Linked DNA regions of Homo sapiens: regions 1, 3 and 4 are each linked to region 2. Evidence: fine-mapped expression QTL. A gene starts in region 2. Each other region holds a variant in brackets. All regions are shown on one strand. Distances are from middle to middle. Region 1 overlaps SSH1 (slingshot protein phosphatase 1). Region 2 holds the start of SSH1 (slingshot protein phosphatase 1). Region 3 has its middle 57 kb from the start of CMKLR1. Region 4 overlaps CORO1C (coronin 1C).

Region 1 (8,106 bases), 27 kb after region 2:
TCCTGGAGAAGGCATAAACACTGGAAGACAGGCATGACGTCGGGAGGCAGATGGGAGGAAGGACACCATGAGCCGAGAACCACAGTAGGCTTTATGGGGACAGTGCTATAGCTGGGGATAGAACAGAGAATGCGAAGCATGGAGAACAGGGGGAATAGTGCGAGAGGTAATACAAGAATGGTTTTTTATTCTGAAATACTGTTTTCTAACTATATTCTAAGCCCCTAAGGTCAGGACATAGCAGATGAATGAAATTTAGGTTAACGACATACAATGGCTAATTGTGGCAACCCATAGAGAGTTAGCACAAGAAGTTTGGACTCTAATCAATAGATGATGTCACATGGCTAAAAGTTCTGGGGCTGGGAAAGAATGTCATGAGAGCAATGGTTAGCGGCTGTGCAGAGTGGGCGAGAGGCCAGGGAGGCGCTTGTCCTGATTCTTCTCACCAGGCCAAAAGCTTCCGGAGCTCTGCTGTCCTATACCACAGCTGATAGCCTCATGTAGCTAATTAAACTTAAATTTAAATTAACTAAAATGAAATAAAATGACAAACCCAGTTTCTTGGTCACACTTACTGCATCTTAAGTGTTCAGTCAACACATCTGGCCAGTGGCTCCCATACTAGACAGAGAGTGGGTAGAGAATACAACAGCCCTGGCCTTCAGGGACATTCAGAGAATGCAGCACAGAGCCGGGTGCACCGTGGGGCTGCTTGGATGTCGCCTGGCTCACGGGGGTGAGGAGGGCCAGAACTGGGTGGTGCCTGAGAGACCTGAAAGGAGGGGCCTCTGACAAAGTTAGGACTCGGTGACAAATGACTGTGGTATGGGGCTGCATACCATAGACAGGGCTGAGAACCTGGGACAGTCGGGATAATCTCTTCTCGGAATTTTTGAGCTGTCTCAGAAACATTTCCTTCATGTGCCTGTTATTTCTGGCGTGTTTGGCTGTCTTTGCTGCCATAGCATTTCCCGCACAGTGCAGCCTTTATACCTTCTGCCCTCGTGAAGGGGCTTAGATCCTGGTAGAGCAGATGATGCTTGGAGGAAGATGCATTAGCTCCAGCTTCCATGGGGCCTGAGGGCTCTTGGGGTCATCAGGGAACTATCTTAAAATTTGCTAAACCAAGCCAAGACACATCACTTGCTGTCTTATTTAGGGAGAAAAAAAAAAAAAAGCTTGCTTTTGCGAGCTCGCTGGTCAGTTCAGCTGCTTGCCGCTACCCGTTGGTTTGAAGGAGAGCTGTGTAGCTGGCTCAGAGAATGTCTCTTACTGTCTGAAATACTTTTGGACATTCCTTCTCTCTGAGAGAAGCCTACGCCTTCTAGCCAAACAATACATGTTCCAGCAGCAAAGATATTTGTAATGAGCCCTGCCAGCATTCCTTGTCTGTGACCCCTTTCCCTAAGTATAACGCTCTGCAGAGCTGGAATTTTTCTATGCTCAGCATTATGTGTTTAGGGGGGTACAATTTGGGAGCTCCGGTTGACAGGTGTGTCCCTAAAGTTACTTGTTTTCTTAGGCTCTGAAGAGTGACATTTGGAACGAGGCCCTGCCATGTTGCACTGCAAGGCCCACAGTGAAGAAGAACGAGACCTTGGCCCAACTCAGGGTCTTTGTGACTTTTAAACACGAGTTCCAAATGAGGGAAGAACCTGTGGGAGAACCATGGAAAGAATTTTCCATCCGACCTGCAGTCTTTAGCTAATCTCTCTCCAAATGGTGAATTTTCGATCTCCTTTACATCTTTATCAACTTCACTTTGCTAGGCCTGGGGTTCTGAATCCATCCAGAGCCTCACTGAGAGTGGTTTTGAGGTCAGTTGATTAGCTTTCCACGTTGCTGCTATTGCTGCAGGTCAGATGGTGCTGCTTTCTGACCTATGGATTCTTCAGGAAGAGCACCGAACTTTTTCAGCCCCATTCTACCTCTTATTAGCCAGATGACCACAGACAAGTCATTTATCTTCTCCCAGTCTTGGTGGTTTCATTTTCTTTTCTTTCTTTTCTTTTCTTTTGGGAGGCGGGGGTGGGTGGGACAGAGTCTCCCTCTGTCTCCCAGGCTGGAGTGCAGCGGTACAATCTTGGCTCACTGCAACCTCTGCCTCCCGGGCTCAAGTGATTCTCCCACTTCAGCCTCCCAAATACCCGGGACTGCAGGTGCACGCCACCACACCCAGCTAATTTTTGTATTTTTTGTAGAGGCAGGATTTTGCCATGTTGCCCAGGCTGGGGTTGTTTCATCAGGGGAATGGGATTGTAAAAATTAAGTGGAAAAATGTAGGGACAAACTCTCTATAACTAGAAAGCTATTATTTACATATTTAAAACAATATATGTTGATAGTATACCAGGCATTCAGGTGCTGAGAATTTGTGATGTTGACAGTGCGATGTCTCAACCACAAGCATGAGGTTTGTTTCTTAGGTTTGCACATTCTGAAACTTGAATTTGTGAGTTCACTCAGGGATGATCAAGTTCTAAGAAACCAATTTACGCTAACCAAACTTATAAGGAACTGATATATAAAGCACAATTTGTAAATTGAGGTTTATGAACCCACAGGGGGGCCTTTTATGACAGAGGCCAAATCCTCCTGGGTTCACAATAAGGTACATGTAGCATAATCATCTTACTCTCCTGCCCCTTATGCCTCTCTGTTTACTGATCCTTCAGGGCCTCGCAGGCTTCATTTCTTCCAGGGAGGCCTCCCTGAACCCCTGTGTGTACGTGCATCTGCACCTTCCACCTCCTTCCACCGTGGAACTTGCTGCCTTATATCGAAGTTACTGTCCTGTGCCTGCCTGGCCCTCCAGTGTCACTCCAGACCAGGTGTGGAGTGGTCTGTGGCATGGGTGGAAACCGGGTCTGTTTCACTTCTAAATTCTCAGGCCTTAGCACTGACCGGACACAATAGACACTCAGCAAATACTTGTTGATCGAAACCGAATTAACAGAGCCTCCTTTTTGGAATGCTCGTTGGCACCCATCTTTCTATGCTGACAGCATTACATTAGTTCCTTTTTCTCCTAGAATTACCATCAAGTTCGCTGGACAATTGACAGTCCCCTCAGTAATCACCATGCAGAGTGGGGTACCATTGAGGGTTAGTTCTATCCAGGGAAAAGTGATTCCGTTTGTCTCAGCCTGTCCCATCAATCTGGGACCCTTTACAGGGCCTCTTCTTCAGGCTCATATTCTCTACTTTTTTTTCGAGATACAGCATCAGAAATCCTAAATTTGTACTATTTAACTCCCTGTTTCCTTAGGCATAAATTAGTGTAATAATGCCTGTCTGGTCTTCCACACGGTTTTGTGAAGATCAGATGAGTTGACATTCACCAGAATGCTTTGTCCACAGCAGAGTTTGTCAAAGGTCTGATCTGAGGTTGGTCTCGGTGGCTCACAGCTGTCACCCCAGCACTTTGGGAGGCCAAGGCGGAACAATCGCTTGAGCTCAGGAGTTGGAGACCAGCCTGGGCAACATAGCGAGACCCCATGTCTGTTTCACACAGCACAGGTCTGATCTGTTTTTGCTTTCACTGTCATCATTTCGTATTGTCATGATGCAGCGTCTCCCTTAGAGGGCCAGAAGAACATTCAGGTCTCTGAAAGTGTGTAGTAGAAGACTAGCATCTGTTTTACTGCTTCCAAAGAGAGTATTATTTTGTTTTTGACCCTAGCATGACCTCCCTTTATTGCACCTAATCACATCACCCACCTTCTGAGAGCACCATGCCTTTTTGTTGGTGTTACCTTTTACCAGCAGAAAACATCGACGTGTACCTATGTGAGAGGTATCTTTATGAAGCCCATGGAGAAGACTGTTTTCTCTGTGTCTTCTGATGTTGTTTGTTTGTGTGTTTGTTTTTGAGACAGTCTCACTCTCATCCAGGCTGGAGTGCAGTGGGGACTCCAGGATCACAATCTCCACTCAGTGCAGCCTCGACCTCCAGGGTACAAGTGATTCTCGTGCCTCAGCTTCCCAAGAAGCTGGGACTACAAGTGTGCGTCACCACGCTCAGCTAATTTTTGTATTTTTAGTAAAGACTGGGTTTCACCATGTTTTCCAGGCTGGTCTTGAACTCCTGACCTCAAGTGATCCACCCACCTTGGCCTCCCAAAGTGCCAGGATTACAGGCGTGAGCCACCATGCCTGGCCATGATGTTATTTGATTCTGAGGTTTTTAAAACTTGGCTGTGCATCAGAAGCACCCCCTGGAACTTTCTGGAGACAAGATCTGTCTCCCAGGTTGGAGTGCAGTGGTGTGGTCACAGCTCACTGTAGCCTTGACCTCACCAGGCTCAAGTGATTCTCCCACCTCAGCCTCCTGAGCAGCTGGGACTACAGGCACACACCACCAAGCCTAGCTAATTTTATTTTTATTTTTTTGTAGAGATGGGATCTTGTTACGTTGCCCAGGTTAATCTTGAACTCCAGGGGTCAACTGATTCTCCCACTTTGACCTCCCAAAGTGCTGTGATTACAGGCATGAGCTACCATGCCCAGCTCCCTGGAACTTTTTAAAAAAGTAGATGCCCAGGACTCATCACAGACCTTCCGAATTAGACTCTGCTGAGGCTGGACCTGGGCATGAATGTGTTTTAGGAGTTTGATAGGTTGTTTCAATGTATGACCAGAGTTGGAATTCAGGGGTGTTTGGATATTCCATACTGTGATGTTTCTATACCTACTATTTTTGTTCTTCAAGAAATGCTGTTTCTATGCAGCAGGGCAGACACCCAGATCACCAGCACATATACCCATTCCTTAAAGAGGATGGCTGTCTTTGCCCTTATCAGAGCTTGGGCTGGCTTGGCTTACCCTGTGCTCCATGCTCTGCAAATGTTTG[C/G]CTGTTTGGATGAATGAACAGAACCCTGTAAGGAATTCTAGGGGTTAATTCTAGGGGTTAATCAGAGTATATATGGTAGAATGTAAATTGGAACCCAGAAATATGAATTCCCAGACCATTGTTTTTACTTTTGTTCCCCACCGCCCCTGCCCAAGACAGTGTCTCACTTTGTCGCCCAGGCTGGAGTACAGTGGTGCGATCTTGGCTCACTGCAACCTCCGCCTCCTGGGTTCAAGTGATTCTCTGCCTCAGCCTCCTGAGTAGCTGGGATTACAGGCATGCACCACCACACCTGGCTAATTTTTGTATTTTTAGTAGAGACAGGGTTTTGCCATGTTGACCATGCTAGTCTCGAACTCCTGACCTCAAATGATCCACCCATCTCAGCCTCCCAAAGTGCTGGGATTACAGGAATGAGTCATCACCCCCAGTTTTTACTTTTCTTAAACCTTAAAGCGCGGCAGTCACCATGGGCGTTGTCCATGCTATCCCTGGTGATTCTATTTTGGAATTGTTGACGGGCTTCCTTCGTTTGTCATATGGAGAAAATACCTTACCCTGCAGAACTGCCAGAGTTCAATGACGTGGCGTAGCTAAGTACCTCCTACAGCCTTGGCCACATGGGAGATCCTCAGTAAATAATAGTCCTGTTGATGAGAAACTTACCTTGAAAGCGACTTCTTGGTCAGCGTGGCTGTGTGGTTTACAGAACTCCTTAGCCTCTATGCAGTGCAGAAGGGCCAAAGGATGTGTCCTGTCCCCCAACTATGACGGCAGTGGTGGGTAGGATAAGGCTGTGGGTCCCCTGCCCTTCTGATTTCTACTTGGGCAGATGGAAGAACCCCGGCACAGTCTCGTCTTCCTGGAGTTCTGTTTGCTTGAATGGTTCCTTCTCTCTCTTTCCCACGCATGATGCATTCACACACTGGGAAGAAGGACGGAAGATGTGATCCACATTCTGACTTCTCAGTGCCTTAGTGGCTTTGCCATTAGGCACCTGGGCAGGCATGAGCGGATGTGACCGCAGCATAATGGCTCTGATTTTCATTCTGGATGAGTAGAACAGCTGCTTAACAGGGGTTAAGCAGGTGGGCGTGGGGCAGATAGATGTGAGTCCAGCCCCATCTTGTAGAGATATGTGCTCCTAGGCAAGCTGGGGTTTCCTCACCTGCAAAACCAGAATCATGGTAATGTGTGTTTCACTTAATCCGTAGGGAGGATCGCTTGGTCACTTGTGAGCCGAGGGAAGAGAAGCCCCTACTCAGTGCTGCTTCCTTCAGGAATTGTTCCAGAAGTCACCAGTTAAATGCTCCCTCCTCCCTCTTGTAAACCCTAGCCGAGCCCCTTTCTTAGGGTACTTATTCCATTCTCTCCTGCGTCATGGTTATTCACATCCTGAACTTATTTCTCTCACTGAAAGAAACGCTAAAAACACAGCTCTTGGCTGGCTTGTGCCTGGAGGGTTTGGGATCACACCTCCAACCTTTAGGACCTTTGCAGCCTGACCTGCCTTGGGCACCGTGCGTATCCCAGAGCTCCTCATAGGTGTGCATGTGGTCCCCTCTACCTGGCGTGTCCCCTCAGATAGCTGTTAGCATGACTGAAGAATTTTCAGGATGTAACCGTGCTTTGAGTACGCAGAATAACTAACTGCGGCAGCTGCCCACGTCACCGTCACCGTTGGGTAAATGGATGCTGATTTGAAAGAAAGAGTCATCCTTCAGAATGTTGATTTGAATCGGAAGGGGGTCTTGTTGCTTGGGGTTGGTTCCTTGGGGCCAGTTGTTTGCCCTCACAATGTCGAATGCACACCCCGGTGCTTGTTTCTCCGGCCTACAGAAAAGCCCGTAGGAGTGCAGTGATTAGAGGAACCTCAGCTGTTTTGCTGAATGGCCCTCTTTCATCAGGATGTGCTGGGACAAGGGCCTTTTTCAGCCAAAATATCAGAGGAAGACAAGAGTTCCACAAGAGCCATTTGCTTTTCGGGTAGGACTCTGAGGAGGAGTTGGCTCCCCAGCCCTCGTGGAAGCACTCGGCAGCCTCCTGGCTTTTCCTGATCTCCATAGGGAGCAGATGGCCAGAGCTCGGAGGGCAGTTGTAGGGAGCGTTAGAGATGTGAGCACTGCAGCCACGAACCTCTTTTATTTTACCGACTTCTGCATCTTCCTTCAGCCAACCCACTGCTTCTGCTGTCCAGAGGTTTCCAGCTCAAATTAGTACGTATGACCACCCTGATTACTGGTTTCCTGCCATGGCTTGGTTTCTGGATGACACTGGCTGTTTATATTTTGGGGGCCTGGGGTTTTTTGAGGAGCATTGATTGAGGTTTTTTGTCTGTCTTCAATGCTTTGGAGAAACTTTAATCTTATGAAGCTTCCCGAATGGCAGTAATCAGTGTCCGAGAACAGATCTGTGTGGTGGAGATAAAAACATTCCAGTTGGCGGGTAGAGAGGGCAGCGGCTTTTTTTTTTTTTATCCCTCATCAAGATTTTTCTTACAGCGGTGGAGGAAGACATTTCCGTTTTGTCTGTCTGCGTCTGACCTTTTGTAACTTTAGTCACTCCTTTTAGGACACTCAGATCTTTTGTGAGAAGAGTGACTTCTGGGTGGCTGGGATGGATGGCTTGTGGGTTTGGGCTTCCTGGCCCCAGACACCTGGTAAAGTGAGCGTGCCATCACCAATGTGGATTTCTTCATGGACTTCCCCAGTGGGACACTTTGAGGGTCTGATGAATCGGGAGCCTGTGCCTCTGGGCATCAGAAGCTGCAGTCGTCAGATACAGTATTCAGGTCAGCCACGCAGAGGGCGCATGAGGCTCTGGGCCCAGAGTGAGCTCAGAAGAGAAGCCAGGAAGCCGGGTCACAGAGACTTTCTGCATCTTGTTTTCATAAATCCTGTGACTGACCATGCTCTGCGGCCTCCCACCCCACCCCCCACCCGGAGAGTCATGTCGTGCGGTTTCCTCTGGCTGTATCTCCTGACTGTATTTGCAGGACGCAGGGTGATCTCACAGCTTCGGGATAATGCGCTGCTACTTGGGCTTCCCTGCAGCTTCCAGTCTTGCTTTTTACAGTAAATGCCTGTTACTTGATTGTCGTGGGGGAACAGAGGCAGAGTGTTCCAGGGCCCCAATCAATGCCATCCTGACTTCATGCGTAGAGCAGGAGTCCCTGATTCTTATCAGTGTAGGAACATGGAGGAGGAACAGCTGGCCTTGTAAGTGATCACAGAGTGAAACCAGCCTAGTCT
Region 2 (8,106 bases):
GGTAATCCCAAAGCTTTGGGAGGCCAAGGTCGGGGGATTGAGTGCCTCCAGGAGTTTGAAACCAGCCTGGGCAACATAGCAACACCCAGTTTCTGGCAAAAATAAAGTCAGCCAGGCGTGGTGGTGTACACCTGTAGTCTCAGGTACTCCGGAGGCAGAGGCAGGAGGATGGCTTGAGCCCAGAGTTCAAGGCTGAAGTGAGCTAGGATTGCACCACTACACCCAGTCCTGGGTGACAGAATGAGACCTTGGCTCTTAAAAAATTTTTGTAAATATTTTGACCAGGTGCAGTGGCTCACACCTGTAATCCCAGCATTTTGGGAGGCCGAGGCAGGCAGATCACTGATTTCAGGAATTTGAGACCAGCCTGGCCAACATGGTGAAACCCCATCTCTACTAAAAATACAAAAATTAGCCGGTCATGGTGGTGGGGGTCTGTAATCCCAGCTACTCGGGAGGCTGAGGCAGGAGAACTGCTTGAACCCAAGAGGCAGAGATTGTGCCACACTGCACTCCAGCCTGGGCAACAGAGCAAGACTCTGTCTCAATTAAAAAAAAAAAAAAAAAGCAAATTTTAAAAATATTTTATTCATCATGGATTTGGCATTAATTTTGATTTTCTAAAATATTGCATTAAAATACTATTTATCTTAATCATTGAGTTTTTGGGGGCACCCTCTTACATTTTGCACCCTCACGCTGGTCCCAGCCTGATTCCTGAGGCTTTTCTTAGGGACCGTTCCTGGCTCTACGGTAATGGGACAAGACAGAGAGATGGACCCATTATGATAAGGCAGACTGACACTTGCTGTGTGTTTAAGGGTAGGGTGAGGGCTACGAGATCCTGGAAATGACACTGCTTAAGGGGCAGGGAAAGCTTTTTGGAGGTGATTTCTAGCAAGAGTTAGTTGTGGGGAAGAAAAGGGCTCTCAGCTCTAAGAGGAAGTGAGAAGGGGTGGAGACTGCCTCCAAAAAAGTTGGGGTGAGTGGAAAAGCAGGCCGGCCAGAGCAGGGGGATTAGGATTGGGGGCCACGGACGGGTACCAGGATCAGATCTAGGTAGGAATTTCTTGGTGAAGAGGCCATTGCATTTGTATAGGCAGTAGTTCTCAGACTGTCGTCCCCAGACAGAAGCATCAGCATTGCCTGTGAATTTGTTAGACGTGCAAATTTTCCAGCCCTACAGCAAACCTTGTGAATTCGAAACTCTGGGAGGTGGGGTCTAGCAATCTGTATTTTCTCCAGGGGATTCTCAAACTCTCAAATTTGAAAACTAATGTAAGAGAGACATAAAAGAAAAATAAATCATAATGAAACAACATGCATTACAATGTGGAAATGCTCAGCCACTACTCCCTTAGAGGACACAGGGGCATCTCAGAAGCATGGGCCTGCCAATAATCAATGTGCTTGGATTTGAGAAATAAAATATTCTCTACTCAACTGAATTTTGTCCACAATTTTCCCTTATATTTGACATTTAAGTACCTATGACTGTCTGTCTACCTAGAGTGCAGCTACAGTTGTGGGCACCTTGTGTGGGATGCTCTAATATTAGCAGAGGCGTTGCCATCCATTACCTCCTTTTCCCTAAGGATGGATGAACAACTCTTGACAAAACTCTCAAGCAAAACAAAGTGTATTTTCCCTTCCTTTCCCTCCCCTCCCCTCCTCTCCCCTCCCCTCCCCTCCCCTCCCCTCCTCTCCCCTCCCCTCCTCTCCCCTCCCCTCCTCTCCCCTCCTCTCCCCTCCCCTCCCCTCCCCTCCTCTCCCCTCCCCTCCTCTCCCCTCCCCTCCTCTCCCCTCCTCTCCCCTCCTCTCCCCTCCCCTCCCCTCCCTTCCCTTCTCTCTTTCTCTCTGTCTTGCTGTGTCACACAGGCTGGAGTGCAGTGGCACGATCTCAGATTGCTGCAACCTCTGCCTCCCGGGTTCAAGTGATTCTCCTGCCTCAGCCTCCTGAGTAGCTGAGATTATAGGTGCCCGCCACCATGCCTGGCTAATTTTTTGTATTTTTAGGAGAGACAGGGTTTCAACATAGTCACCTTTCTGAAAATTCAGTAAAAAATACCAGGCTAGCCATGGTGGCTTCTGTCTGTAATCCCAGCACTTTGGAAGGCGGAAGCAGGAGGATTGCCTGGGCAACATAGTTAAACTTTTTTTTTAAAGGAGCTGGGTGTGGTGGTGTGTACCCGTTGTACTCAGGAGACTGAAGCAGGAGGATGATTTGAGCCTGGGAGATGGAGGCTGCAGTGAGCTATGATTGTGACATTGCACTTCAGCCTGGGTGACGGGAGTGAGACCCTGTTTCAGAAAAAAAGTGAGAGAAAGAGAGGAAGGAAGGAAGGAAGGCAGGAAGGAAGGAAGGAAGGAAGGAAGGAAGGAAGGAAGACTAGTGTTGATGCATGAAATGGAGTTAGGTTCTGGCTTCAAATTACTATAAATGGGTTTTTCACCCAGGAAACATTTTGTGGGAATGGAGCAATTCTTGTTGGGGAGACTGTCCAGTGCATTGGAAGACATTTAGCATCCAAGGCTCTTGCACTCTAAATGCCAGGAGCTCTCCCCCTCCATCAGCAAGACAACCACAAACATTCCCACAAATCCCCTCTTAGAAACGCTCCGTAGAAGCTACAGTGCCCCCCACTAGAATCACCTTTGAGATGAATCGTGCTGAGACCCTGTGAATAACATGGAGGAGGTCACAGCCCCAGGACAGAGGGAGGGACGGGGAAGAATCCAGGAGGCTGCGTGGGTTTCCTGTTGGGCAGTAAGACAAATTTGCTAAGCTGCGGGGCAGGCTGGGACCACTGCGTTTGCGAGTGCTTGTGCAACATGCAGAGGTTGGGGGTGGGAGCCGGGAGATGAGATTTTGGCTAAAAGAAAAGTTTCCTACTACTAAGTCAAGCCAGAATTGCCTTCTTGGTATCTTATTCCATGTTCCCCTCTCCATCCCCATAACTGGTCACCTCTCCCCGGGACAACAGCAGCAGCCTCCTCCCTGGTCTCCCTCAGCCCTCTGCCCCGTGGTCCCTCATCCACGCAGCAGCCGGAGCGATCTTTCCAGAGAGGATGGAGACTCCAGCCATTCCTCCCCTCTTCCCTTCCCTGAGTGCTGGCCTCCGGTTGACAAACTTCTTCCTGCTTCAGGGCACGCTGATCCCCCCTGCTTGGAGAGCTGTCTCTCTGTTCTTTCACCTGTTAATCCTGCTTATGCTCAAGCCCAAGCCTCAGAATAAAGCTCTTCTGGGAAGCCTTCCCTGACCTCCAAGGAGTTGGCTGGGTTTCAGAACACCCAGAAAGAATTCATTGAAAAAGATTAGCAAAATACTTTTTTAAAAACGTGCCTAATAACTTGATTAACCTCTGCAAAATCAGGCGAATCTATTTTGCTTACTGTTTTTGTTTTTTGTTTTTTGTTTTTTTGAGACCGAGTCTCGCTCTGTCGCCCAGGCTGGAGTGCAGTGGCGCGATCTCAGCTCATTGCAACCTCCGCCTCCCAGATTCAAGCGATTCTCTTGCCTCAGCCTCCCGAGTAGCTGGGACTACAGGCGCGCACCACTGCGCCCAGCTAATTTTTGTCTTTTTAGTAGAGACGGGGTTTCACCATGTTGGCCAGGATGGTCTCGATCTCTTGACCTCGTAATCCGCCCGCCTCAGCCTCCCAAAGTGCTGGGATTACAGGCGTGAGCCACCGCGCCCGGCCCCAGGACGTCTTTTATTTCCTGGTCGCTGTACAGTCCTGTCTGCACGGTCGCCGGGCCTCAGTTTCCCCAGGCAGAGCAGCGGGCAGGGCCCCTGGGGCGTACGGGCTCCGGGCGGCGCGCGCGCCCCCGAGTCCCAGGCCTGATAGCGGGGCGCGCGGGCGGGGGCGCGTGTGTCGGGCGCGCGAGGGACGTGATCGACCAGCCGAGGCCTCGGGCAGCCCTCAGGGCCCCCGCGCACGCGCGCCTCCTCGTCCCGCCCTGCCCGCTTCCCCGCCCACTCCGCGCACTGAGGCCTGCGCGCGCCGGCGCGGGAGGCGGGAGCTGGGGGCGGGGGCGGTGGCGACGCCGAGGGGGAGGGGCGGGCCCGGCCCGGCTCGGCCCGGCCGCCCGCGCGCGGCTCCAGGAGGCCCCGGGCCCGGCCCGGGCGGCGGTGGCGGTGGCGGCTCTAGCTCGAGACGTCTGTGGCGCCCTCGCACCGCGCCGCAGCCATGGCCCTGGTGACCCTGCAGCGCTCGCCCACGCCCAGCGCCGCCTCCTCCTCGGCCAGCAACAGCGAGGTGAGCCCCGGGCTCGCCGCGCCCGGCCTGGGCCGCCGGACGCCGCGCCGAGGCCGCCGGAGCTGGGGCCGCGCGTGCGGGGCAGGGGGGCGGCTGCGCGGGCTCCTCGGGGCCCCGCCGTAGGAACAGAGCCGGGCAGCCGGACCGGGGTGACCGTGCGAGGACTGTGTGCGATGTGACCCTGTCTTGGGGAGCTGTGCGGGGACTTTGTGTGCGGTGTGACCCCTATCGGGGGGCGACTTTGCAGGGACTGTGTATGCAGTGCGACCCCTCTGGGAGTGTCTGCAGGATACTGTGTGTGCGCTGTGACCCACATCAGGGGGTTACCCCCATCTTGGGGTGACCCCTGTTAGGCGGAGACTGTGTGCGTTGTGACCCCTAAGGGTGACTGTGCAGAGACTGTGTGTGCAGATGTGACCTCGTGATTGTGTGGGGACTGTGATTTCAGGTGTGACCCCCATCTTGGGTTGACCTCTGTCTGGGGAGGACTGTGCGTCTGTCGGGACTCCCATTTGTGAGTGACTCTGCAGTGTGACCAGGGTCCAGGGGTGACTGGATGTGCAACTGGGACCCTTGATTGGGTGACTGCGTGAGCCGCTGGTTCTGAGACCTGTGGCCGGGGTAGTTCTAGGCCCTTTGCCTGTATGCCTGGCTGTGCGATGTGAGATGTGACTGTTGCTGACCTGCCGTCCGGGGACTGTGCCAGCGTGAGACAGGCATCTGGGAGTGCCCCTACAAACGTGTGAGATTGTTTCCCCGCCTGCCGCCTCTGGAGTTCTGTCTGTAGGCGTGCCCGTGTCACTGTGTGACGGTGACCGAGCGTGCTGTGGGCTCTGTGTGGCTGTGTTTCACGTCTGTGCGTGCAGCCTTAGTCTGGCTTTTCCTTTCTGTAACATCACTCAGGCCTGTGTGTTTATGTGCATCTATCTTTCTGTGTGGCTGTGACCCATTCTGGGTGATTGCATAGGTGCATTCCTGGGTTGCGTGTCCTGGCACTGTGCGCGTTTTTGTGGGTCTGTGTGTGGCCCAGGTCCGTTTGCCTGGCCACTTTTTCCTCTGGGGTTGATTGAGGGCACTGTTGCCCTCTTAGCCTGCAGGGTTGGCCTGGCTTGTCCTAGGCTGGGGCCTTGGGCCTCTGAGCAGGTCAGCCCTCTGTAGCTGCAGGGATGACCCTCTGGTCGCGCAATCTTGCCCACCATCTCTTGAAGAACCCGTCAAGGCCTCTGGTCTAAACTCTTACCTATAACAAGGCTGAGTGTCCGCCTGCAGACCCTTAGCTGTGTTTAGAGAAGACTGGAGGAGCGGCCCTGCGGTCCCAGGCCCAGGAAGTTCCGCAGCCAGCATCTGGGCTCTTCAGCCCCTTTCTTTGTGGGAGGGAGTGGGGGAAGTTGACTGATAACACGGGGGAGGTTTGTGTGTCTGAGAGAGACAAGAGAATAATGTTTGCATTTGGCTTGACAGCCCTGTCTCCTGGTAGGGTAGTTCTTCAGCCTTGTTTTGCTGGGATTGGCAGGGACATTTTCAGAGTGGCTGGGAAGTTGAACCTTCACAGCCCCCTCCTTGGAGAGGAGAGGCCATTCATGAGTTATCTATACACAGAAGGTTCTAGTAATCCCCCTCTACACGCTGATTAGAGGCAAAAGAACACTGGCGATCAATAGCCTGCTACTGAGAAGTTAGGTTGCAGGAGCGCCTTTCCTTCCCACAGCGAGGAGGGGCTGTTTTCTGTTCCGGTCACTGCTGTCTGGCAATTTATGCACTTAATCTCAGGTTCTCATCACAAAAGTTTATGTGAGGTAAGGGGAGAGGTTGGCTTCAGGCTGAACCTGTCAGCCCAGATTTCTGATTCAAAACCCCATGTTCCTAGAGTTACTTGCAACCTAATCTGTTCTTGTCTTACGCATTTTAAGGTCTTATTATTTTTTAGTTACATACCATAAATTTGCCATTTTAAAGTGTACAATTCAGTGGTTTTTAGTATATACATGAGATTGTGCAACCACCACCATCTAATTCCAGAACATTTTCATCCTCCCCAAAATAGGAACCCTGTACCCGTTAGCCCTCACCTGCAGCCTCCCCCTGCCCCATTCTCCCTAACCTTAGGCAACCACTAATCTACTTTCTGTATCTATGGATTTGCTTATTCTGGACATTTTATATAAATGGAATCACACCCTGTGTGGCCTTTTGTGTCTGGCTTCTTTGACTCAGCATCACGTTTTCAAAGTTCATGCATATTGTAGCATGTGGCAGTACTTCATTCCTTTTCATGGCTGTATAATACTCCATTGTATGGATGTACCACATTTTGTTGGACATTTGTGTTGTGTCTACTAGATACATTTTCAATTATTATATAAAGCATTATTTTTACCAAGTGCCAATGACCCTGATAAACATAAAGTAAAACTCAGGCAGCTTTTATTTGATCATAGCAAAGCTGCAGCATTCATTGCTTGGCTTTGAATGCGCTGGGATGTTTCCCGAAGGCAAGGCCCTCGTTCAGATGTGTTGAGGTGAGAAGCAAGGTGGGATGGAGACAGCAAGTGTGTATGGGGTCAGGAGACCTAGGCCAGGCCGGTTCTGCCCTGGTCCGCCCTCGCTTGAGTTGCTTCCTGTGTGTGGGCCCTGGCTCATCTAAAAGGACTGAATTACCTCTTTCATGTGTTCCTTGGCAGATGTAGTTTCCCTGGAATAACTGACCTGAGATGGCCTTTCATCTGAGAACCTCAGAGAGTGACCGAGAGTTAAATGATTGTGAAGTCCGTACCCCCAAGTCACGTCATCACTCTTCAAATTGCAACTTCATAATGAGTCAGACACTTAGGGCAGTGCTTTCCTGACACAGCCAGGCCTGCTGCCGGCGTGGGAAACGGGGGATCACAGCCCTCAGTCCTAAGGCTCTCTTTTCTCTTTTAATTTTCTTTTTTTCCCAGTCTTTGATTATGTCACTTATGTCATTTTCCTGTGAATCTTATCTCAGTTCCTTTGTGTGAACAGGCAGAGCACAAGAATAGATAAATCAATAATTTTCAGGAATGGATCATAACATTGTTATTTCTGAGAAACATTCAAAGTGACTAATTTTCATGGGCAGATCTCCAGGCACTTTTTTGGATTGGACCAGAGTTTCTCAACCCACTGTTGATACTTGGGACCAGAACATTCTCTCTTGTGGGGGGACCATCCTGTGTGTTGTGGGATCCTGTCCTCTACCCACTAGGTGCCAGTAGTGACCTCCAGAAAAATGCCTCCAGACATCTTCCAATGTCTCCTGTTGAGAGAACTTGCTCCGCATTGAGAACCACTGGGTTAGACCCCAACATACTCTTTGTCAATTTGTTGCTCTTGTGACTTGTTTTGTGGTCATTGAAGCCTTCCCTGCTCTTTCCACTTCTCCTTCAGTGTGGGGTAGGTGCCTCTGCAGAATCTTGTATGTACTTCATCTTAATATGATGTAGGGACTCCCAGGCCCTCTGGTGTACGCTTTTTTTTTTTTTTTGAAACGAAGTATTGCTCTTTCACCAGGCTGGAGTGCAGTGGTGCAATCTCGGCTCACTGCAACCTCCGCCTCCTGGGTTCAAGTGATTCTCCTGCCTCAGCCTCCCAGGTAGCTGGGATTACAGGTACATGTCACCGTGCCTGGCTAATTTTTGTATTTTTAGTAGAGACAGCGTGTCACCTTGTTGGCTAGGCTGGTCTCGAACTCCTGACCTCAGGTGATCCGCCCACCTCGGCCTCCTGCAGTGCTGGGATTCCAGGTGTGAGCCACTGCGCCGGGCTGGTGTACTCATTCTTGGTTGAAGTTGCCACCTCCTGGTGGGTGTCCCTTGCTGCCCAGG
Region 3 (8,106 bases), 580 kb after region 2:
AGGCTACTGCAGCCTCAGATGAGCCATGGTGGAATCTGGACTGGGGAAACAGAAGCGATGCTGGAGAGAAATGGACTATTGGAAAGATATTTAAAAGCTACCCAAGCTTTCTCAGGGGAGTGGTTAGTGGGAAACCAACCCAGGGCCCATTTCTGCTACACAGAGGCCTCGGTGCATTGCTTTATTGTCTGAAATTAATTGTAAATATTATTCAAATGTACCACCCAATGCACAATTATATTTCTCAGGGGAGCCCTCTGAACACATAATAAAGCCCTATAAATAATACATATATTAACCTAAGAGGAACAGAGGCATGTTAATGCTGCAATTGCAGGTTGTGCTGTGGGGACTTTATACAGATGAGATGCCAAGCACTTGGACTTGGGGTTTGACCTTGGGGGTCACCTGAGTTCTGTCCTGGGGAATCTTCCAGAAGTCTCTCCCCCTGGGATATGGGGATACCCCCAGACAAGTCAGGCAGCTACTGCTCTAGGTATCTAGTCAATAGACAGGTGGGGGCAAGATGAGAGTTGGTGAGGGAGGAAGAAGCACAGGTCTATAAAACACTTACCTTGTGCTCAAAGATGCAGAAACAGCAACAGCAGTAATAATAGCAAATACTAATTCAGCCTTGTCTAAGTTTTGGGCAAGCTCTTCAGTTTCATTGTCTCATTGAGTCCTTGCAACAAGGATTTCACAGTAGGGGTATTGCTATCTCCATACACAAGTGAAGAGATTGAGGTTCAGAAAGGTGAAGTGACTTTGCCCGATGCCACACAGCTGGTAAGTGACAGAGCTGGGATTCAAACCCCAGTATGTTTATCTTGAAAGCTCCTGCTGTTTTCCCCAGAAATGTGCAAATGCAAAATGTCCTCTGTAGAGACCCTTCCCTGGAGAGAAGAGGACAAGAACATATTCTCTTTCCCATGTCAAATTTTGAAGATGTGGGAGTCGGGGAGTCTGAGGAATTGCTTTTTCCTTGAGAGGAGGAAATTGCATTTGAATGGGCTTGTCACTTTCTCACAACCCTGAGAATCTTAGGGTTTTTGCGTTTGGAAAGGACTACTTCCTCAAGTTTGTCCCTTCCTGTTCCCCCATTTCACAGATGGTGAAACTGAGACCTCTTTGCAAATAAGATGGAGACCACCTGCCTCACTGACTGCTGGGAGATGAGAAGTGTGTGAAAATGCTCACCTGAGTCACTCTTAAAACACCATCACCCCAGAGACCTGAGCATTCACCAAGCCACCCTGCTTCACTTCTTAGTTTATTGACAAGCACTTTGGTGCTAATCTGCTGTAAAGAATTTCTGCCCAGGGTCTGGGCTCCCCTGAGGAGTTTCCAGCAGAATCCTGGCTGAAGGGGAGGCGGGAGATCTTGGCAAAAACTGCTGTAGGGCAGACATGCTTTGTTTGGGGGCATAAATGTTACTCTTAAAGATTGTCCTGAATATGAGTGAGGGATGCTCCCCATCTTGACCTAGATAGTGGTTACACGGGGTAAGGGGTGGGGAATGGGGGTTCATCTGTAAAAACCCAATTATCTGTACATTGAAGACGAACGCACTTCACTATAGTAAGTTATGCCTCAGCAAAAGTCTTTGTAAAAATAAAATAATTCATGTTGTCTGCAGAAATGAGTTCCCACCTCCACTGGTACCCAGGACAGGTAGTGGCAGGACAGGACCAGGTCTGACGGTTTGTCCTTGATTCAAGAGAGCATTTTAGAGGGCAGTGGCTCCTGCAGCATCCATCCAAAGAGGTAGAGTCTCAGGAAGGACTAAGCCCTCCTGGGGGCCTCCCCAGCCTCACCACCTGACTCAAAGGGACTTTGATGTTTATGACACCGGGTCAGGTAGGCTCAGGAATCAGACTGCGAGGGCTCGAATCCAAGCTCTGCTATTTACGTCAGCTAAGGGCAGGGTTAGAGTTAGGCTCTGTGACCTTGGGCAAGCTATTCAATGCCTCCGAAGCCTCAGTTTTCTCCTCTGTATGACAAAGGGCATGATAAAGGTTTGCAGCTGTGAGGATTCAGTGAGATTGCTGCACTTTAGCGTTTAGCAGGTGCCAGGCTCTTTCATCTGAATATGCATCGGCTTTCTTGCTGGCCTCCCCACTTCTGTCTTTGCTCCCTCAACCCACACTGTAGGAAGCAGCCAGAGTGAGCTTTTATCACAGAATACAGTAATCCAGAGCCCTTACTATGGCATCAAAACCCCTATGTGATCGGCTACTGCCTCCTTCTCTAAGTTCATCTCATGCTGCTTTCCAGCTAGGTGATCCTTTCTGCCTCTCAAGCAAAATGAAACAAACAGATCAACAGCAACAATACAGCCAAGATTGGTCCCACCTCAGGCCCTTGCACTTGCTATTCCTGCTGTTTCTGGGCCCACTTGCCTCTTCCCTTTGCATGACTGATTCGTCCGCCTCCTTCTGGTCTCAGTCCAAATGCCATCTCCTCAGACAGGCCATGCTAAGGTAGCCTCCATCCCTACTCGCTGCCTATCAGATCCCTATTTTGTATTAGTGTTTTCTTTATACTAGTTACTGCCATCTGAAATCATATTATTATGTGTGTATTTAGTGGCCTTAAGTCTGGCCCCTACTTGGATCCAGCAAGATGGCAGGGACTTTGGCCACCTTATTGTATCCCTAGCAGTGCTTAGCCCAGAAAAGCTGCTCATAACTTCTGGTTGAATGAATGAAGACATTATCATAAGCTGACATTATTTTTGCCATCATCATCATCGAGTTTCATGACAATCACTTTTATAATACACCGTTTCCAAAGTATTTTCACATTTTTTTCCTATCTTAATGAAACCTGGGGAGGGTGGGATTTTTCCTCATTTCACCAACATGGAAACTGAGGTCGCAGGTCACTTAGTTTAGAAGTGGAGGAGACACAGTTCTTTACTTGTGCCATTAAGAGTAATCACAGGCTGGGCGCGGTGGCTCAGGCCTGCAATCCCCATACTTCGGGAGGCTGAGACGGGCAGATCGCTTGAGGCCAGGAGTTTGAGGGCAGCCTTGTCAACATGGAGAAACTCCGTCTCTATTAAAAATACAAAAAAATTTAGCTGAGCATGGTGGCACACGCCTGTAATCCCAGCTACTCGGGAGGCTGAGACACAAGAGTCGCTTGAACTTGGGAGGCGTAGGTCGTAGTGAGCCAAGATCACACTAGTGCACTCCAGCCTGGGCAGCAGAGTGAGACCCTGTCTCAGAAAAAAAAAAAAAAGAGTAATCACAGACAAAGGAGGTTTCTATCAAGTGCTTCCACCTCCCTTGGCCTTTTCTTTTCCCTGTTGTCTGATTTATTACAGCCAGAAAATAAAGGAACCAGATGCCTCCCTCCTCCTCATATTGTTTTGTAGTTCTTTTCCGGACCAGGTTTCTGTTAAGGGTTTGGCTGGTACCACTGTGACCACAGACTTCCTGTGTTTATCCCTTCACTTAGAAATCATAGTCAACTGGGCATTAAAGTCTGTGCTGGACACTGGATGACGCTAAGACACCAACACACAGCCAAATACCTGGGGGTCCCGTGGGGCCCAGAAGCCTAACACAGAAAGAGGCAGATCCAGGGTATCTTTTCCCTGGTTTCCACTATGCAGATGTTTTCCACCTTCAGAGCAACATCAAGATGAGTGAACAAGTCTCCAGTTTGCCTCCAGATGTTGGGACTGCGGTTGTGGAGCAAATTCCATACAGGGAGGT[G/A]GAATGGAGGCTCTCAGCCTTGCCTGCTGGCAGATGATAGCCTGGTGGATGGCAGGCAGTTTACAATACCTAGCCCACTGCCTGGGCACCAGTGCCTTACTGGGAAGGATTGACTTGTGATGGGATTTTAGGGATGGTGACAGGCAGCCAGAGGGAACTCCACATTGGTCAACCTATTTCATCCTTATCAGAAGCTTAAATGGTAAAACCACCTTGTCTTCAGAAACGAAGAAATGCTGGGTCAGCTGAAATTCGAGCCCTCACTGTCAGAGAAGCTAAGCAGAAACATCTTAGAGGTAGGGACAGGGGACAAATTTCAGACAAAGATCATGGTCAGGGCAAGCCTGCCAAGAAGGCTGCACATGAAGCCTCAGATCAGAAACCTGATGGAGTGGATGTATCCAGGCACATTCTACTACAACTTTGAAAACAGACCCATCCTCTCAGGTTGGAACACCACCTGGCTGTGCTACAAAATGAAAACAAAGAAGGACCCCTCAAAGCCCCCTTTGGACGCAAGGATCTTTGGAGGCCAGGTCTATTCCAAGCCTGAACACCACCCAGAGATGAGATTCGTAGATTGGTTCTGCAACTCGAGGCTGCATCGTGACCAGGACTACCTGGTCATCTGGTACATCTCCTGGAGTCCCTGCTCAGAGTATGCAGGGAACGTGGCAGAGTTCCTGGCCAAGGATGGCAAGGTCACCCTGACCATCTTCGTTGCCCACCTCTACTACTTCTGGGAAGCAGATTACCAAGAGGAGCTTCACAGATGGTGTCAGAAAAAACAGTCCACATGCCAGCATGAAGATCATGAACTATGATGAATTTCAACACTGTTGGGACAAATTTGTGTACAACCAAAGAATGCTATTTGATCCTTGGAAGCAACTGAATACAAATTATGCATTACTGCACAGCATGCTGGGGGAGATTCTCAGACACATTCACTTACAATTTTACCAATGATCCTTCAGTCTCTGGGCAGCACCAGACCTACCTGTGCTGCAAGGTGGAGTGCCAAAACAATGATGCCTGGGTCCCTCTGGACCAGCAACAAGGGCATCCTACCCAGCCAGGCTTTGAATAATCTCAGTTGCTATTAAGATTTCCATGCAGAGCAGTGCTTCCTGTACCTGATTTCCTTTTGGAAGCTGGACCGGGCTCAGTGCTACAGGGTCACCTGGTTCATCTCCTGGAGTCCCTGCTTCAGCTGTGCCCAGCAAGTGGCTACATTTCATTGGGAGAACAGATGTGTGAGCCTGCACATCTTCGCTGCATGCATCTATAATTATCTCCCAGGATATGAGGGGCTGTGCATGCTGCAGAGGGCTGGGACCCAAATCTCCATCATGACCTCCGGAAGTTTAGGCACTGCTGGGTCACCTTTGTGGACCACCAGGGATGTCCCTTCCAGCCCTGGGATGGACTAGATGAGCACAGTCAAGCCCTAAGTGGGAGGCTGCAGGCCATTCTCCAGAATCAGGAAAACCATAGGATGGACCTCAGACTCTAAAGAAGGCAGAAAACCTGTGTTGAGCAGCAGAATGGAAATCTTTCAAGAAATGCAAACAGGCCATTCACCACTATCTCTGGCTGAGCAGTGGACACTAGCAAAGCAATGAGCTCCTGACAAGTAGTTTTTTTTTTTTTTTTTTTTTTGAGACAGAGTCTCGCACTATTGTCTGGGCTGGAGTGCAGTGGCACAATCTTGGCTCACTGCAACCTCCGCCTCCCAGGTTCAAGTGACTCTCCTGCCTCAGCCTCCTGAGTAGCTGGGATTACAGGCGCCCGCCACCAAGCCTGGCTAATTTTTTTTTGTATTTTTAGTAGAGATGGGGTTTCACTATGTTGGCCAGGCCGGTCTCGAACACTTGACCTCATGATCCACCCACCTTGGCCTCCCAAAGTGCTGGGATTACAAGTGTGAGCCACTGTGCCTGGCTGACAAGTAGATTTTTAAAAAAATCAGAGTGAATTACTTTTAATCAAAAATTTATACCATGTTTCAAGGATACAGTAGTTAAGATTATGGTCAATACACACAGAAAGTTTTCAAATTTACTAATCCAGTGACCATTTGATTTTATATGTAGAAGAATAAAATGAAATACTAAATAAAAAAAAAACTTCTAAAATTTGGTGAAGACAAGGCTTGGCAACGCCAAAGAAACTTTTTTCTCCTTGAAACAGGGTCTGGCTCTATAGCCCAGGCTGGAGTGCAGTGGTGTGATCATGGCTCACTGCAGCCTCGAGCTCCTGGGCTCAAGTGCTGTCCCCACCTCAACCTCCTAAGTAGCTGGGACTACAGGTGTGCACCACCATGGCCAGCTAACCACAGAAACTTTCATCTGTTTATTCTTTCTTTAGGCACCATTAATACCTAAGGCAGGTAGAATGGGTCCCAGAAAGACACAATTGGTAGCGGCTGATTGTTGGCTTCGGTCATTGCCCATAGGTCAGCTGGTACAGGATGCCTTAAGGTGAAAAGGAGTGAGGGTGCATGAAGAATAATGAGCACAGGGAAGAGAGAAGCAGAGCAAAGTACCAGATAAAATACCGGCCAAGCACAGATGAATGTCTTCAAGGAGCTGTTATGTTTCTCTGCACAATGTAAATACCCTTGCTATTTCAGGATGGCGGCTGGCCTGCTCAGTAACACACATGTTCCAAATAAAGATTTTGCATGAAAGTAAAAAAAAAAAAAAAGAAAGAAACGAAGAAGTGAAGTTCAGTGGGAACAAGTAAGCTTCCCAGAACCACACAGAATCTACCCATTGATTTGTATTGAGGATTTACTATATGGCAGGCAATGTGCTAGGCTCTGGGGATACAGCTGCAGATGCCATCCTGACCTTCATGAATCTTGCAATGTATTGGCATGCAGCAGAGCTGAGATTTGAACCCACAGCTGTATAACTGTGTGGTTTATACTCTTTTACTACATATCCTTCCTGAGTTAAATAAGTTAGATACAGAGGAATTAGGACAGAGCAAAGGGAAAGACTTCATGTTATGAAGCCTTGAACTTGTCAGGAGTTAGAGAAGACTCACATTTTGGCTAGGGATTGCTGAGTTGAGATTGATTCTGGGTTTTATGACGCACCTGTCAATAACTGCTCTCCCATCCCTGAATTCTCAAAACAGAAAAGTGACCTAATCCAATAGCTTTTCCTTCCTTTGAAAAAGCAGTAAAAGATGATGCTGCTTAACCCAAGTGAATGGCATGCTAAAGGTGAAATTGCAGGAACTGAGGCAGGTTAAAGGATAAAGAAACAGGGAATAGGTGGAGGCTCCCTAGCTTCTTCCATTCTCCCTATAGGGACGATTGGTTTTGCAGGTTATTAGAATCTGAAATGTCCCCACTTTCTGATTCCTGAATTCCTTGGGCATTCTATCCTTTTATAAACCTCATTTCGGTCTGCTGGCCACAGAATCCTCACAGATATAGATAGATGTATGGAAACAGCTAGTTCAATCTTAACATGTCAGAGATAAAAAGCCCTATAATCAGTATTGTCAAGCCCATCCCAGGATCTCTGATGAAAAATTAGTCTCACAATACATTAGCAGTGAGACATGGCAAAAACTTGGACATGTCCATGCCCGGCTCCGGTTTCCCACTCCATGATGTGATCCTCCATTTCATTCAACTGCTCAGTCATCTTCTCATATTTTGGTTCAGACACATCAATCCCTGTAAACTTGAGAAGCACAGAAACAGAAAATCAGTATATCTTTAAAGGCTAGGAATATATATTACACGAATAAAAGTCTTGATACCCTATGCTATTTAACATTTATCTTAGGAATCACGGTTTAAAATAAACCAAGCAAAGTTTGAAAGAAATAAGATTATATCAGTTAGAATGCATTGGACTGCAAGTAACAGAGACCTCATTCAAAACGGTAGAATCTATAGGAAAAGTGCATTCATTTGCATACTAAGAATGCCTGGAGGTTGAGAACTCAGCAACTGAATATTGGCATCAAGGATCCAGAGTGTTTCCTTCTGTTTGCTCTGTCATCTTCAGAGGATTGGCTTTGTCCCCAAAATGACATATCTCCTGGTCAAAAGATGGCACTCACAGTATCAGATATTGCAGCTGCCCATGGCATCAAGTAGAAGAGCCATTGATTATCTCAGAGTGTTGCAAGGGAATCTGCCCCCGCCCCCAACCCCCTAGCAGAACTCCCCTCACACCTTTTTGGCCAGAACTGGGTCACATGGCTACTGCTAAACCAATCACTGATAAGGAAAGAAGATTGGTTTAGACCAATCAGGATCCACCCAGGGGACACAGGACAAAGAAGTGGACATTCAGACAAGATCAGGGTTTCATTTACATGGAAGAAGGGGAATGGGTTAGGGATAGGCACTGAG
Region 4 (8,106 bases), 170 kb after region 2:
TCAAGCACTTCTCCTGCCTCAGCCTCGTGAGTAGCTGGGACTACGGGTGTGTACCATCATGCCCGGCTAATTTTTATATTTTTAGTAGAGACAGAGTTTCACTGTGTTGGCCAGGCTGGTCTCGAACTCCTGATCCTCTTGCCTTGCCCTCCCAAAGTGGGATTACAGGCGTGAGCCACCACACCCGGCTAGGTTCTTGCTTTTAAGAAGCTTCAACAACTGTGCTTGATCTCTCCAGGGGGGTGCTTTGTGCATGAAGTGCTTTAGCACTGGGGTGTGAGAGATAGTTTCACCCTAGGCTTAGAAGGTAAGGAAGACATCACAGAGAAGGTTCGGTTTGAATTCAGGTTTTTTTTTTTCCTCTGCGTAGGAGCTAAAGATGAAACAGAAGAGGAGCCAACCCAACTTTTAAACTGTTAAGTTAGTAGAGGGGCTCTGTCCCTAGGAGGGCAAAGAAGTAGGTGGTAGGCACATTCCTCCTTCAGACTCCAGGATGTCTAGTTTAGGTGGATTTTTGTAGTATTGCAGAAATAGAATGTTTGATTGGAAGATAAACAAATCATTTATGCATAGTGTGAACTAACATTATGAGTCAAAAGAAGCTGAAGGATAGCTTTTTGGTAGAAAATCCTACATTTCTTGACCCTTTCTTTCACTTTCAGTGTGAATTTGGCAAAATTGGTATTTTCCTTGATTGTTATGGGGAAAAGAACTAGAATAAGCACTGTTTTATATTTTAGAATCATTGTTTTAACTAGATCAACATGGCGTCTTTCGTTTGTATCATCTTTAGGAAAAAGCAGTGACTTCTGTCACGTTGATGGAAATGAGACTGCAGAATGTCAGCAGATCGTACGTGGATAGTCCCCTTCATGAACAGTGTCTCTGTTTTTTCACTTGGTAGGGTGGGATCATTCCTCTGTTCTACAGTTGTAGAAATTGAAACCAAATTGAGTGGTTGTCCAAGACCGTGAGGTTGTTTGTGAATTAGAACTTAGGTTGCTGAGTCCTTATTTGATTTGTACATGTATATTTTTATTAATTTTTTTTCTACTGAGTGTGAACGAATTTTTCTTTAGGGGGGAGGATATAGAATCTGTGGTTTAGCCGGGCGCGGTGGCTCAAGCTTGTAATTCCAGCGCTTTGGGAGGCCGAGGCAGGTGGATCACCTGAGGTCAGCAGTTTGAGACCAGCCTGGCCAACATGGTGAAACCCTGTCTCTACTAAAAATACAAAAATTAGCTGGGCATGGTGGCACACGCCTGTTATCGCAGCTAATCGGGAGGCTGAGACAGGAGAATGGCTTGAACACAGGAGGCAGAGGTTGCAGTGAGCTGAGATAGCACCATTGCACTCCAGCCTGGGCGACAGAGCAAGACTCTGTCTCAAAAAAAAAAAAAAAAAAAAAGCTGTGGTCTAATGGACACTGAATCCTTTGCATTCTTTCTCTGGGATTAGAGAGTTTAATAACAAAAACAGTAACTTGACAGGGCTTTCATTCTGTCAGCTCAGAGAATTGTCTTAGGTTTGGAAAGTACTTGGTCTATACCATGCCTTGTGAGGACACAGTGACAGTGATGAAATCGCAGCAGTTCACATTTGTTGAGGGCTTCCTTTAAGTGCCAGGCGCCGTGCTGATAAGTGCCTTCTTTCATGGGCTACTTGAGAGGGAATGGCAGTCTCCTGACAGTGCTTTTCTGTGTGATCCACAGTCTTTGCCAGCACCTGCTGGATTTGCATTGGCTGCATGTCTGCCTTACTGTGCATTGCTGACAGGCAATTTCCATTTCTACACATTGTGGTACTCTGTTTTAGACAACAGTGGCAGTGCCGGTAGCCCTTTGTACAGATGTGGACATTTGGCACTTGGTAGCTTTGGTGTTAGGGGCAGAGGATTTTGTTCAGAGCCAGCCAGTGTCCTGACATGTCGTGGGATGCCCATTCACTGCCTCCTGAAATAGATTGTCTGATGCCTGGAGCACCTTCAACTGCCAAGTGTATGGGCCGTGAAAAGCTGGGGGACAGGACTGGGAGGGGTGGAGGATGCAGGGGGAGGGCACCAGGTGCAGAACAATGACTTCCAAATTATGTCACGAGCTGCCAGCCACACGAGCACGGCCTGGCCTCATTACCACATGAAGTGCCACAGAAGGGCCTTTTCATTTTCTCCTAGTGACTGTGTTATCCACAGTTTTGCTGGGAGGGGTGGGGTGGGCACCCTGCTCACCCCCAGTTAACAATGGAGCACAAAGTCCTGGCAGAAGGAACTTCCCAATGTACCCCGGGGCTATTTTTGATGACAGTGAGTGGCTGTGACTCACTGAATGTGTGCCCTGGCAGATGATGGTTTCCACCCCACCCCCTCCCCTGGAGATGAGCAGGCAGCCTTTGTGCGTTTCCTTGGCCAGCTTCTCCTGCTGCTGCAGTTCACTGATATGTCCACAGCAGCCGGCCCGCAGGCCTGACAGGGCTCTGACAGTGGTTTTTACCATATATGGCCATCAGAGCGCTGTGGCTGTCAGCCGGCCAGGATAATTTCCTTCCTTTGCTTTGATTGGCTGCACGGGTGGCTCAGAGAATGGTGGGATCTGGGAGTGTGTGGTGAAGAGAAGCCACTGAGTCAAGTGCAAAGAACGTTTAACTCTTTACTGGGTTTGTGGAGCGTGCCAGTCTGTGCTAAGCAGGCTGACAATTGCTGCCAGCAGAAGCCCTCAGTGTGTAAACATGGTAACCCCAGTCTGGGAAAGCTGCTGTATCTCCGGTAAAGAAAGGTATCTGAACACACATTACTCTGAAATAAACTCAAGGTGTCATGAACACATTTCTGGAGTCACGGTTTTGCCCAGAAGCCACCTTATAACCACATGTAGCAAATCATCTGCTCCTGCCAAGTTGAATATCTTCGCCCATTAGGGGTGGGACCTGAGTTGAGTCTGGGGAAGAATGAGCTGAGAGGGCATGTGATGGGACACATGTCTGCTTTCTTGGAGGAACGGTGACTTGGGTTTCATTTCTGGCTGACTGAATTGAGTCTATACTGCAGTCCTCTTGCTTGTGTGGAACTGACTCAGCCATGGAGCCCAAGGCATTAGCCCCTCCCACCCCCCAAAAAAAGTTGTAATATTTTTCTATTTATCATCTCCACCATCCAAGGAGGGTGGATTTTCATTCTGAGACCTGTGGATTAAACCAATGCAGAGCTGCAATGGGAAGGGTTAGCCCTGGAGCTCTTCAGCGTTCACAGAGGGTTTCAGTAGATCAATCTCCAATGTCATTTGCTTACTACGAGGGCTTAGACAACCAGTTTCTCTATTTTCTGATTTGATATTGAATGCTTTAATTTTCCATATTGCATTTACATCTGTAGTTCTTCTGCTTTTCAGCTTTTGCTTTCTAGCTCAATTTTATTTTAACTAGATTCTACCTCATCTTGGGTTCCAAGTTTTTATTTGTTCTCAGCCCAGAAGCATCATATGGAATTACTTGTCTGCAATAATGAGCAGAAAGCATTAGGTTTTCACTTTATAAATTCTTTAAGTCAGGAAGTTAGGAAATACAGCTACTCTGGTTGCT[A/G]TCGCATATTTGGGCAAGGTTGAGTAAGGAAATGTTAACTTTTCCGTGTTTTTGCTTTCTGATAATAAAATGTTTGTAGTTTTACAATAACTTCCCTCAAGTTCTTAATTGATTTTAAAATATGGTCTATTCAGTATTAAACCCAGTTTTTAGAGAGGATCTGTGATGCAAAAATTATTTGCTTGGCATTTTCACTTCTGTCCAAAAAGACTGCTGTTTTTTACTCACAGGCAGGTGAAGTCTCTGTAGGCCCATACTCCCTCTCCCCAGCAGCTTTTGTTTCTAGCTTACCTTACCTTACAGGGTAACTCAATCTGTAGGGTTTATTCCAGAGCACCTCCTTTTACCTCAAGGATGGTATTTCTGGTTCCCTTAAAGTAAAGCCTCCTCAGAATGTTTTATTCCTGGGCCATGAGCTGTCACTCTCAGGGACCAGCCTGTGCACAAGTCATATATTGTGTGCACCCGTCTTTTTGGTCTGCTGCTGAGTCTCTGTTTTCCATGCCGCTGTCCCCTTGTCCCATGACCACAATCACTCTAGCTCCTCCCCGTGGAGCAGCAGGGGCTTAAGAAATTCAAACAAAACATGTATCCACATAAATAATACTGTCATAAGAAAAAGGAAGTTGAAAAAAATGGAAAACCCACTTCAATAGATACGCTTTTGACTCCTTTGAACTCTGCACAGTGTGAATGGAGCCCTTATGCTTGGGCTGAAAACTTTTCCTCTACTTCTGAGCACATGTGTGACTTAACATTCTCCTTGCTGAGTTGAAGAATTCTCAGTATGTATCACCCAAAGCCAAAAATAAGTTATGATTGAAATTTGGGCACATAAAGTGATTTTGATACTCATTTTTTCCTAAAATGAAAACTTAGATGAATATTAGGTAGGGGTTTGAACAATGTGGAAATCTTTTAACTGTTCTTTGAGTCAGGTCATGTAAAGTATCTTTGTTTGCCTTCCCCAGGATGGGGTGGGGGCTCTTAGGCCCTTACATCTTCGGGTGGTGTAACCAGTCTGGATAATAGGCATAGAGGACTGCAGATCAGGAGATGGAAAAGTACTGGAAGTGAGACAGCTGCCTGAGTTGGATTAGATAAGGGAAACCGTGTAGAAAGCAGTCTGAATCCAGCACCCTAGGAAGGTGTGGGTTTATATGATACACTCCAGAATGCAAACTTGAAAGAAATTGTGTGTGGGATACCTTGAGCTTCTTAAAGGGGAATATTTGATTTGACTTATCACTCGAATGAATGTGTCACTTTTTATCACCATGGGAATTTATTACTTTGTGAAAACATACATTAGTTATGAGAAAGAGTAGGCCTGCTGGGTAAAGCGTTGTGCGACTTTAACATAATGTTACATTTCCTTTCTTGCAGGAACCAGTGATTATCAGATTGATCCATCTTTTTTTGTTTTTTCAGAGATGGAGTCTCGCTCTGTTGCCCAGGCTGGAGTGCAGTGGTGCGATCTCAGCTCACTGCAACCTCCGCCTTCCGGGTTCAAGTGATTCTCCCACCTCAGCCTCCCAAGTAGCTGGGATTACAGGTGCCCAACACCATGCCCGGCTAATTTTTTTTTTTTTTTTTTCTGAGACAGAGTCTCATTCTGTCGCCCAGGCTGGAGTGTAGTGGTACGCTCTCAGCTCACTGCAACCTCCGTCTCCCAGGCTCAAGCAATTCTCCTGCCTCAGCCCTCCCGAGTAGCCGGGATTACAGGCATGTGCCACCACAACGGGCTAATTTTTGTATTTTTAGTAGAGACGAGATTTCACCATTTTGGCCAGGCTGGTCTCGAACTCCTGACCTATCTGCCTGCCTTGGTTTCCCAAAGTGCTGGGATTACAAGTGTGAGCCACCGTGCCCGGCCTGTATTTTTAGTAGAGATGAAGTTTCACCGTGTTGGCCAGGCTGGTCTTGAACTCCTGACCTCAGATGATCCACCTGCCTCGGCCTCTCAAAGTGCTGGGATTACAGGTGTGAGCCACCGTGCCCAGCTTAGATTGATCCATTTTAACACCAATTGGTAGTGTCTTCAACCACAAACCAATATGTGGGTCAGAAATAATTATGTGAGGAATCATTCTTACATGAAGAAACAGTCATTCTGAATGATCTTTTGTAATATGTAGGACATATTGGAAGCAAAATTCCCAATGTTGAATTTCGAGAGTTTGGGAAGGTGAACATGGCTGCGGTACATGTGTAATACACCACTAGCTGCTTTAAAAACACACCCCAGCACAGAACTTTATTGAGACGTGTCTGTCAGAAATTTTCTGTACATGTTTGTGTACATTAACAGTTTTTTTTATTGTACTCAGTACTGCCCTCAATATATAGGATGAGTCTACTTCTTAAATGTGGATTCCTTTTTAGAAGGAGATGTGAGATCGATAAATAAGATATACTGGGCTGGGCACGGTGGCTCACACCTGTAATCTCAGCACTTTGGGAGGCTGAGGTGGGCAGATCACCTGAGGTCAGGAGTTTGAGACCAGCCTGGTCAACATAGTGAAAAAAAATACAAAAATTAGCTGGACGTGGTGGCGTGTGCCTGTAATCCCAGCTACTCAGGAGGCTGAGGCGGGAGAATCGCCTGTACCTGGGAGGTGGAGGTTGCATGCAGTGAGCTGAGATTGCACCACTGCACTCCAGCCTGGGTGACAGAGTGAGACTCCGTCTCAAAAAAAAAAAAAGGGTCAGAGGGGATACATTGTTAATAAGTGGAAGCTGTTGTGATTTTCCAGTAAGATTGATAGGAAGTGCCCTTACAGCTAAGCAATATCATTTCTTCTTTTTTCTTTTTTTAATTTTAATTAAATTGTTATTATTATTATTGAGACAGAGTCTCGCTGTCACCCAGGCTGGAGTACACTGGCGCGATCTTGGCTCACTGAAACCTCTGCCTCCCAGGTTCAAGCGATTCTCGTGCCTCAGCCTCCTGAGTAGCTGGGACTATAGGCACACACCATCAAGCGCAGCTAATTTTTGTAATTTTCGTAAAGATGGAGTTTCATCATGTTGGCCAGGCTGGTCTCGAACTCCTGACCTCAAGTGATCCGCCCGCCTCAGCCTCCCAAAGTGCTGAGATTACAGGCGTGAGCCACTGCACCTGGCCTTATTATTATTTTTTTGAAACAGGGTCTTACTCTGTCACCCAGGCTGGAGTGCAGTGGCGCGATCATAGTTCACTGCAGCCTTGACCTCCTGGGCTCAGGTGATCCTCCCACCTCAGCCTCCCAAGTAGCTGGGACTACAGGTGCGCACCACTACACCTGACTAATTTTTATATTTGTAGGGACAGGGTTTCGCCGGATTTCTTAAGATTTATGTTGAATTTAGTGTGCCTAAAGAGGAATGTTTTTTGCTAAGTCATTTAAGTTATTGAACTTTCCTTTTATAGCAATTTGATAAAGTTATATTTTTACTGATGCTTACATTTTGATTTTCATTCACTTTCTCCCCGCAAAATGCCCATTGGAGGAAATGTTGCCTAACTCTGTGGGTTTAGTTGAAGTATCAGTCTCCAGGAACTCGGCTGTGTTGTAGCTACTTCAAGATTTTTAAGTGTTTTCCCCAAAGCAAATGATAGTGCTTGTATCTGGGACGGTTTCTGCCACGGTGAAGGTTGCTGGCTGGAACATGCTCATAAGACATCACCCTTAGCTCTGGCCAGCCACGTGGAAATTGTGCCATTACACCTCTCCCTTGTGCCAGCTGTATACATGCTTTGGAAGCTGAATTTTCCTTTCGGCTCATGTTGCTTGGCTCTGGGCAGGCTGTACTGGATCTTTCAGATAATAATGTCTGTAGGCCAGTGTCCTGACCTATTTCACCAATGTCCCACGAGTTTATGAACTGGCTCTGGAGCAGAGCCTTTGGGAAACTTGGTGCTGGCCATTTTTGCCACCTGTTGGGTTGACATGCTAGTAATCCCAATCATTTGGAGTTTTAGCTAGAAAGGTATAACAAAAGCTATCCTATGGCATGTGATTGGGACTAGTAAGTAATCAATGAATCAAAATTTATTTAAAGCAAGGAGTCTAATGGCTATTACATTTTCAGCTAAACTACTTCAATTTCATGCCAGAAAAGTAGTAATATTCTAGATTAAGCAACAGAGGTGATTTATCCCTAGTGAAATAGTGGACTGATCTGTTAGTAAAGTGAAGTTTTTCTATCTCTAAGCTTTAGAAGATTGGTGGGAGTTTCTTAAATAATTCATTTTTTAGTTTAAAAAGATATCTAAAAGCTGGCTTTAATTCTTGTACATCTTCCTTTCAGCCTCTGCATTCATTTAAATTTGCTGCTTAGAGGTTCAGGTAAACTGTGTTGTCACCATGACATGTGGTGGATGTCTTTCTGAGTGGCCCCTCACAATCTAGCTAATTATACATGGATTCTTTGGTTTGTTCACTACATGATAAATCAGTATGTGTCGTGCAGACGAATGAGAATTGTGTTCTTATTAGATCCTAGTGCAAAATGTCTTTCAGAATGATGTTTCCTCATCTTTACCATATA

The links.
Region 1: its variant is fine-mapped to the expression of SSH1 in whole blood (INTERVAL, PIP above 0.99).
Region 3: its variant is fine-mapped to the expression of SSH1 in lymphoblastoid cells (GTEx, PIP above 0.99).
Region 4: its variant is fine-mapped to the expression of SSH1 in whole blood (TOPMed, PIP above 0.99).

What each region holds. Positions count from the first base shown.
Region 1 is chr12:108,826,228-108,834,333 of GRCh38, reverse strand. All of the region lies in intron 2 of SSH1 (slingshot protein phosphatase 1), which reads left to right. Among named protein-coding and RNA genes, the nearest start is that of MIR619, 6.7 kb to the left of the region's middle. RefSeq lists enhancers at 2,542-2,651, 6,103-6,674. The variant C/G (reference allele first, on the strand shown) is at 4,856.
Region 2 is chr12:108,853,583-108,861,688 of GRCh38, reverse strand. SSH1 (slingshot protein phosphatase 1) reads left to right here and starts at 4,106. Exons shown (of 15, transcript NM_018984.4): 1 at 4,106-4,261. The coding sequence starts at 4,193. RefSeq lists a silencer at 3,637-4,376 and enhancers at 4,807-4,856, 4,909-5,410, 6,525-7,724.
Region 3 is chr12:108,278,214-108,286,319 of GRCh38, reverse strand. It overlaps the pseudogene LOC196469. Among named protein-coding and RNA genes, the nearest start is that of CMKLR1, 57 kb to the left of the region's middle. The variant G/A (reference allele first, on the strand shown) is at 3,723.
Region 4 is chr12:108,686,097-108,694,202 of GRCh38, reverse strand. The region is part of intron 2 of CORO1C (coronin 1C); the gene reads left to right. Among named protein-coding and RNA genes, the nearest start is that of CORO1C, 41 kb to the left of the region's middle. RefSeq lists enhancers at 141-653, 1,367-2,048, 2,276-2,570, 2,049-2,730, 2,521-2,800. The variant A/G (reference allele first, on the strand shown) is at 3,574.